2 linked regions of the Homo sapiens genome follow. The protein of the gene in region 2 purifies or fractionates together with the protein of the main gene of each other region. This does not show direct contact. Each region holds a gene or a part of one and is shown on either strand. Other genes may lie near its edges.

Evidence for each region. Proteins that work in one complex are often made in the same cells at the same time.
Region 1: the proteins of TDRD9 (region 2) and SEMA4B purify together in Homo sapiens (affinity purification with mass spectrometry; one large-scale study listed by BioGRID and IntAct). This does not show direct contact.

The regions. Positions count from the first base shown.
Region 1 is NC_000015.10:90,218,330-90,221,829, reverse strand, and holds part of SEMA4B (semaphorin-4B isoform 1 precursor), read right to left. Parts: intron 2,038-3,500; coding exon 1,939-2,037; intron 849-1,938; coding exon 737-848; intron 464-736; coding exon 350-463; intron 217-349; coding exon 65-216; intron 1-64. UniProt on the Homo sapiens protein: Inhibits axonal extension by providing local signals to specify territories inaccessible for growing axons.
Region 2 is NC_000014.9:103,927,046-103,931,255, reverse strand, and holds the start of TDRD9 (ATP-dependent RNA helicase TDRD9), read right to left. Parts: upstream 2,801-4,210; 5' UTR 2,747-2,800; coding exon 2,532-2,746; intron 1-2,531. UniProt on the Homo sapiens protein: ATP-binding RNA helicase required during spermatogenesis. Required to repress transposable elements and prevent their mobilization, which is essential for the germline integrity.

The DNA of each region.
Region 1 (3,500 bases), on a different chromosome or scaffold from region 2:
ATCTTGCAGCTGTGGAGGCTTTGAGGTCCCTGGGGTGGCCACCCTGTCAGCCCGTTCCCCTCACCTTGCAGATGCGGGCAATGCGGGACACAATGGTGTTCTCAAAGAACTCAAATTCCTGGCCAGTCTCGCTGAAGAAAAAGTAGATCTTGTCATCATCGCCTTGCAAGCTGCCCAGGCTCTCAGGAATGTAGGCTGAGGCCACAAAAGCTGGGTCTGTAGGGACCAGGTCAGGAGCTCAGAGTCAGCCCAGGAACCCTGGAGACAGGCCAAGCTGGGGGAAAGTGCCCCCTTCTAGGGCTGGGTGAACAGGATCCCTGCCCTCTGGGTGGTGGCAAGAGGACTTCACCTTGCAGCCAGTTGAGGGAGCTCTCGGTCTTGGTGGGGCGAAGGCTTTGGCTCCGCGAGATGGCCGGGTCATTCCCTTGGAAGCTGCTGACTGTTCCAGTGTAGAGCTCGCCATCTGCCAAGAAAACATTCCCATGGGAATGGGCTCCTCAGCACGGCCCCTTCTCCCTGCTCAGGGCCCAGAGTGACCCCAGCACTGCCCGTTTTGCCTGTGGTGGGCAGAGAAGGAAGCTGGAACTTGGAAAAACCAAACCCAAGGCAAGCCCCTGGCCATTCTGTCCCCTTGGAAATAAGCATGGCATGGACTCAGCCTGTCCAAAGCTAGCCCTCTAGCCCTGTGTGCCCCTACATGGAACCTCAATGAAGCCATCCTGCCCTCAACACTCACCAACCACCAGGGCAGTGGACTTGAAATTCGGGTCGAAGGGACAACGGCCCTTGCCATCTTCCAGGAGGACATTCCCCTTCTCGTCCCTTGCCAGGGTGAAGTTCTCCATGTTCTGCAGGAGGGTGGACACATGGGCTCAGGGGCACTCCAGGGAATGAGGAGCAGGCTTGGTGAGAAAGAGAGAGGCGTGCAGGAGAAGGCAACTCTGCAGGCAGGTGAGGTGTGTGGGACAGAAGGGGTCAGGTGTCAGGGACGCCGTCCTCCTCAGCCAGGACACGGTGCCGAAGGGTTTGAACCTGGACAGTCGGCCTCAGGAGAGGCCTCACCCAGACACAGTGCCACACTGCCTCACAGTGACCCGACGCGGGACACATTATCAGACCCACCTGGCGGAGGAGGTGAGGCTTAGAAAATGATGTGAGCCTGGCCGGGCGCGGTGGCTCACACCTGTAATCCCAGCACTCTGGGAGGCCGAGGCGGGTGGATCACGAGGTCAGGAGATCAAGACCATCCTGGCTAACACGGTGAAACCCCCCTCTCTACCGAAAAATAGAAAAAATTAGCCAGGCGTGGTGGCGGGCACCTGTAGTCCCAGCTACTCGGGAGGCTGAGGCAGGAGAATGGCGTGAACCCAGGAGGCAGAGCTTGCAGTGAGCCGAGATCGTGCCACTGCACTCCAGCCTGGGCGACAGAGCGAGACTCCATCTCAAAAAAAAAAAAAAAAAAGAAAAGAAAAAGAAAAAAGAAATAAAATGATGTGAGCCTGGAAGGGGCAGCAATGTGATTCAAACCCAGGTGTGTCTGACCCCAAAGCTGGGCTCCAACCCACAGCATCAAATGCCACCCTCTGCTAGGGGTGTGTGCTGAGGAGGGGGTGTACAAGATAAGACAAGAGAATCAAGCAAAGGAGAGGGAGAGATGCTGGAAGAAGCAGAAGAGGGCAGCAAGGCCTGGGTGGCACAGGATCTTCATGGGTAAGTGACCGCATGTGCCCCCGCCTCCCCGCACAGGGAGACATGGCTGTCAGGGCTGCGCTTTGTGCCAGGGTGTGGGACCTCAGGGCTCTTGGAGGCCAGTGGTACCTAGAAACCTCCCTCTGGGCCCTGCCTTTCCTCAGGGGTCTATGCTACAGAACAGGATCCCTGGGGCAGAAAGAGGGGCAGTTCCCAGGTCAGCCTCAGGGCTGAGGACAGGTCACTCACGATGTAGGTACACATGGGGCTGAAGGCTGCTGTGCCACAGGTGAACAGGTGACTGCCGCTGAGCGGCAGGAGGATCTTGATGTAGTTTTGACAGTCGCGCTGGGGGGAAGGAGCGAGGGGATATCAGTCCCACGCCCAAGCATGCCACCAGGGGGCACCGCCGAGCCCCCCCTTCCACACCCAGGCCCGGCCTCTGCTCCCAGGACTGGGGATGGGGCACTCAAGTCTAGGAACAAAGAACCCACGGGTTTTCTGGGGCACAGTGGAGCGTGCACAGAGTGTGTGTGCTGCAGGGAGCCCAGGGGCTCAGCTAGTTTTGTGACTGGCAAACTTTCCTTCGGCCTAGGGGTGAGGGCACAGAATCCTACCCCTTTGAGTTGTACTATTCCCCAGCAGCATCCTCTTCAGAAGCCACAGGCCCCTCCCAACCAAGCTGGGAGCTGATGAAGCCACAGCCCAGAGCAGGAGGACTGCTCAGCCCTGAACCCTGAACCCCAGATTCATGCATCACCTTCAAATGGGGTATCTAACTGGCACCTGCAACCAAGCTTCTTTCTGGTCCTCCCTAAAACACATGCTTCCCCCCGAGATCTTGCCACTTTCATTAATTCTGTCTTTTCAGTCGCTGAGGCCCCAAACCCAGTCAGCCTTGACTCTTCTTGTCGGTCATACCCCATAATTTCCCACCCAGAAATCCTGGTGGCTCCATCTTCAAAATGCATCCGGAATCTGAGCATTTCTCACTGGTCCGAGCCACCATCATCACTCGCCCCTCACTGCTCTCCCTCCTCCTGTCCTTCCCCATGGAGGCTTCTCTACCACAGTAGCCAGAGTGACCCTCTTAGTACACAGGTGAGACCATGTCACATCTCTGCTCAGCCTTCCCCTGGCCTCCCAAATACCTCCCTCAGAGTGAAATCAAAAGTCCTGCCCCTCCTCCAGATATGCCACTGTCAGCTCCTCACTCTCTCCTGATCTTGGCTCAAATGTCACTTTTTTAATGAAATGTTACCTGACCACCTCATTCCATCCCACGCCCCGCCAATAACATTTGTAAACTGACTACTTTTTCTTTTGAAACACAGTCTCATTCTGTCATCCAGGCTGGAGTGCAGTGGCGAGATCTCGGCTCACTGCAACCTCTGCCTCCCAGGTTCAAGCGATTCTCCTGCTTCAGCCTCCCAGGTAGCTGGGGCTACAGGCGCCTGCCACCATGCCTGGCTAATGTTTTTTGTATTTTTAGTAGAGACGGAGTTTCACTATGTTGGCCTGGCTGGTCTCGAACTCCTGAGACACTCAGGAGACCATGAGGTGGAGACCTTGTGATCCACCTGCCTCAGCCTCCCGAAGTGCTGGGATTACAGGCGTGAGCCACTGTGCCAAGCCTGCTTTTTCACAATTAAATCTCCAGTACCTAAAAGTACATGGACACAGAGTGCATGCTTCATCAATGTTAGCTGAATAACAGAATGGCAGCCAGGACTTGAACCTGTGTCTTGATCCCAAGTCCAGCACTCGTTTGCCCTCACCTTACCCAGCACCTGCTGCACTTAGGAGCAGGA
Region 2 (4,210 bases):
ACAATCTCAGCTTACTGCAACCTCTGCCTCAGGGACTCAAGCAATTCTCCCACCTCAGCCTCCTGAGTAGCTGGGGCGGCAGGCACAAACCACCATGCTGGGCAAATTTTTGTTTTTTTTTTTGGTAGAGACAGGGTTTCACCATGTTGGCCAGGCTGGTCTTGGAACTCCTGACCTCAAATGATCTGCCCACCTTGGACTCCCAAAGTGCTGGGATTACAGGTGGGAGCCACCACACCCAGATTGAATCTAATAATTTTTTAACTGCGATTAGTATGTTGTCTTTTTTCATTTCATTGCTCTGAAAATTCATTTTTATTGATTTTATAAAAGTCTCAGTCCATGAAGGACTAGAAATCTTAAAAACTTGTCCTTAGTGCTTAAAATGGCACTTAAATCTATACTTTCTGACAAGGTCAATAATAATTTACTTCCAATATTACAATGGGTTATTTAATAGCAATGCTGTTCACACCGTTAAAACTAAGGAGTAAGTGATGGACCATTAAGTAGGGGAGGCGGCCCACAGGATCATTTACCAGAGTAGCTCAAGGAAGTAAAGTGTGCAAACATACAAACAGCAACTCCAAAGTTGCACAAGGGGTCTCTCGGTCCCCCCTATGCCTCTAAGAACCAAATTTACCAAAGATCCCAAAGGTGTACTTGAAAGAACTCTACAAAGGCTTGAAGCAACCCACGAAAGCTTGACCCAGAGTCTGGGCCTATCCATCAAATCAGACAAGACTAACAAACAAGAGTAACTTTAAAAAAGAAAAATAAAGCCAGGCACGGTGACTCACACCTGGAATCCCAGCACTTTGGGAGGCCGACATGGGTGGACCACAAGGTCAGACCGACCTGGCCAACAAGGTGAAATGCTGTCTCTACTAAAAATACAAAATAAGCTGGGCGTGGTGGCACACGCCAGTAATCCCAGCTACTCGGGAGGCCAAGGCAGGAGAATCGCTTGAACCCAGGAGGCGGAGGTTTGTGGTGAGCCAACATTGCGCCACTGCACTCCAGCCTGGGCAACAAGAGCGAAACTATGTCTCAAAAAAAAAAAACCAAGAAAAAGAAAAACAAAACCACCTTCTCAACTGTAAAGCGTGCTGGACTTGGGGACTGAGCAAGAGTGACGGAGATACTCCAAGCTGGAAGTACTTCTCCCAGGGCCTTTTTAAAGAGCGAGAAGAGGGAGCAGGTGTTTCTACTCACCAAATCTACGTCTTTCCTCTAAAAACAGAGGATATACTCTTGCTTTTTATTTCCACCCAAATCAAGTGAACAGAGTAACTGATGGTAGCTACTTAAAGAATAGTGAGATGAGGAGGGAGTCTGTGAAACTTAACAAAGATTCAGCATTTGCACTCCTTGGTATTTACCCAATGAGTTGAAAACTTATGTCCACACAAAAACCTTGCCAAAACTTGGAAGCAGGCCGGGCGCAGTGGCTCACGCCTGTAATCCCAGCACTTTGGGAGGCTGAGGTGGGCAGATCACCTGAGGTCAGGAGTTCTAGACTAGCCTGGCCAACATGGTGAAACCCTGTCTCTATTAAAAATACAAAAATTAGCCAGGCGTGGTGGCATATGCCTGTAGCCTCAGCTACTCGGGAGGCTGAGGCAGGAGAATCGCTTGAACCTAGGAGGGGGAGATTGCAGTGAGGCGAGATGGCGCCACTCCACTCCAGCCTGGGTAACAAAGTGAGACTCCATCTCGGGGGGTGGGGGGAGAACTTGGAAGCAACCAAGCTCTCCTTCAGTAGGTGAATGGAGATAAACTGTGGTACATCCAGACAGTGGAATATTAATCAGTGCTAAAAGGAAAGAAGCTATCAAACCATGGAAAGGCATGGAGGAACCCCCAAATGCATACTAATACTAAGTGACAGAAACCCATCAAAAAGGCTACACATACTGTGTGATTCCAACTAGATGACAGTATGGAAAAGCAAAATTATGGAGACAGTAAAAAAATCAGTGGTTTCCACGTGGTGTAGGGAAAGGGAGGCAGGAACAGTGGGGCCGAGAAGATCTGTAGGTCAGTGAACTCTGTAATGCGTGACGTTAGGCGTTTGTCCAAACCCACAGAACGTCCAGTACGAGGCGTGAACCCTCCTGTAACGATGGCCTCCGGGTGACGAAGACGCAGCGATGCAGGTTCGCCGACTGTCACAAATACCCACACCTTACGCAGATGCTCACAGGGGAAACTCTGGGAGGGAAGGGGCCTATGGGACCTCTGCCCTCCGCTCCGTTATCCTGAAAACCTGAGTGCCTCAAAAACTAGTCTGTTAAACATTAAGAACTGAAAAAAAAAAAAAAAAAAAAACCTCTAGCTCAGCTTCCTTACAGGCACCGCTCTGGGCCGCGCGTCGGGTTGTGTAGTGACCACTCGCCCTGGACGGTCAGGGGTCCCTGGAGCCCCGCGAGAGGGCACGGGCTCGCGAGAAGGATCTGGATGGCCCGTGCCCTCGTCGCCAGGCCTCGCCCGGCCGCCCTCCAGCCGCCTCCGCCCCGCCCGCGTCCTACCTTTCGAACGCAGCGGCCGGCCGGGCCGGAGCTTGGGCCAGAGCCGGAGCCTGGGCCGCGGGACCAGCGCCGGGGGCCACGTCCTGGCGCTGCACCTCCTCCCTGGCCGCCCCTGCCGGGAAGGCGGGCGGCGCGCCCAGCAGCTCCACATTGGTCACCGTCTTGCCGATGGTGAACCAGTCGTTGATCTGCTCGATGGTGAGCTTCCGCAGCATCCTCAAGGCCCAGGCGTCGGCATCCCCCAACTGCCGGGTCTCCGCGGCGGGAACAGGCGACGGCGGAAGCGCACCCTGGAAGCCCCGCCCCCGCTCGAGGCCTTCCAATCAGAACGCGCCGCGCGCCCTTGTGGGCGGGCTCCGGCCCGGGCGCGTGCTGCCCGCGCTGCCTGGTCCTCGTGCCGCCGGCCCCGCCCCGCCGCGCTAGGCCTGCCGGGAGCCGCCGCCCCGAGCGAGCCCAGGGTGAGCCTTTCTAGGACCTCAGGGGAAGCTTGAGCGCCGCGGCTGGCCCGGGAGTCTGTTTCACGGGAGTTCCGTGGCAACCCCTGTGTGTACAAGAAAATGCCCTCCGGTCACTCCCTGGCCTCTCTATTTAGAGGCTGCTGCCTCGGAGGTTTGTGCGCTTTGAGCGGACCGGGACCCTACATACGTTTCTTGAGCACCTCAGGGTGAGGAGATGGAAGGCAAACCAGAGAAGGGATTTGCGTTCGTGGGTCAGACGTACCAGGACATCCTTGCACCTAATATGGGGGGAGAGGGGCAAGAAGAAGGTCAGGAAGGTCTCGGAGAAAGTAACGCCAGGCAGACCCCTGCAGGATACGGGGGAATGCGCCAGACGGAGGACCACCCAGGGTTATAGGGGAGGGCAGGCGGCCCTGATGGCTGAGGTGAGGATCTGGGAGAAGTTCTTTGCAGCCGGATCATAACTGAATTCATCTTCCTTCCTAAACCGGTGTCTCAGGCGGCGGTGTCAGACTCACAGCTGGACACAAACAGGTGCGGACAGGAGGTCCAGGCGATCACATGGACCAAAGATACAGGCTGAGGTGGTCCCGGCCGAGCTCTAGAAGAGTGAGGGTGGAGAACAGAGCCCTAGCAAACTCCCCAAAAGAAGGAGCCGCGGGAAGAAATCAACAAAGGATGCACGGGAAGGCAGCCACGTGTGCAAGGGAAGGGAGGGTCAGAAGAGAGACATGGCCACCTGCCTGGGGTGTGTCCCCCTCACTGGCCAGGGCAGGATCTATCTGGCCCATGTGGGCTCTCAGGAAAGAGCCATGTGAACAAATACAGAGACGGTATCGAGAGCATGGCTCTAATCAGCAGTGTAAAGCCCAAGCAGTGGCAAATAAGAGGGCGGTTTGAAAACACTGTAGACAGAAATCAGGCAGGTAGGTTGAGCTATTGGTGTCTCAAAAATTGAACCCATAATCATACTAAGCCAGGAGTTCTGGCTCCAAATCCTGGCATAATGAGCTCTAGACCTCATATTAGGACTCTGCCAAATACGACAGGTTCCCAAAAGTGCCTCAACACACTTTGCCAGGAAGAAATAACTTGCTTTTCTTTTTTCTTTTGAGGCAGGGTCTCACTCCTGTCGCTGAGGCTGGAGTGCCGTGCTGCAATCAGGGCTCACTGCAGCCTCAACTTCGGGGGCTCAGGTGATGCTCCCACCACAACCTCCTG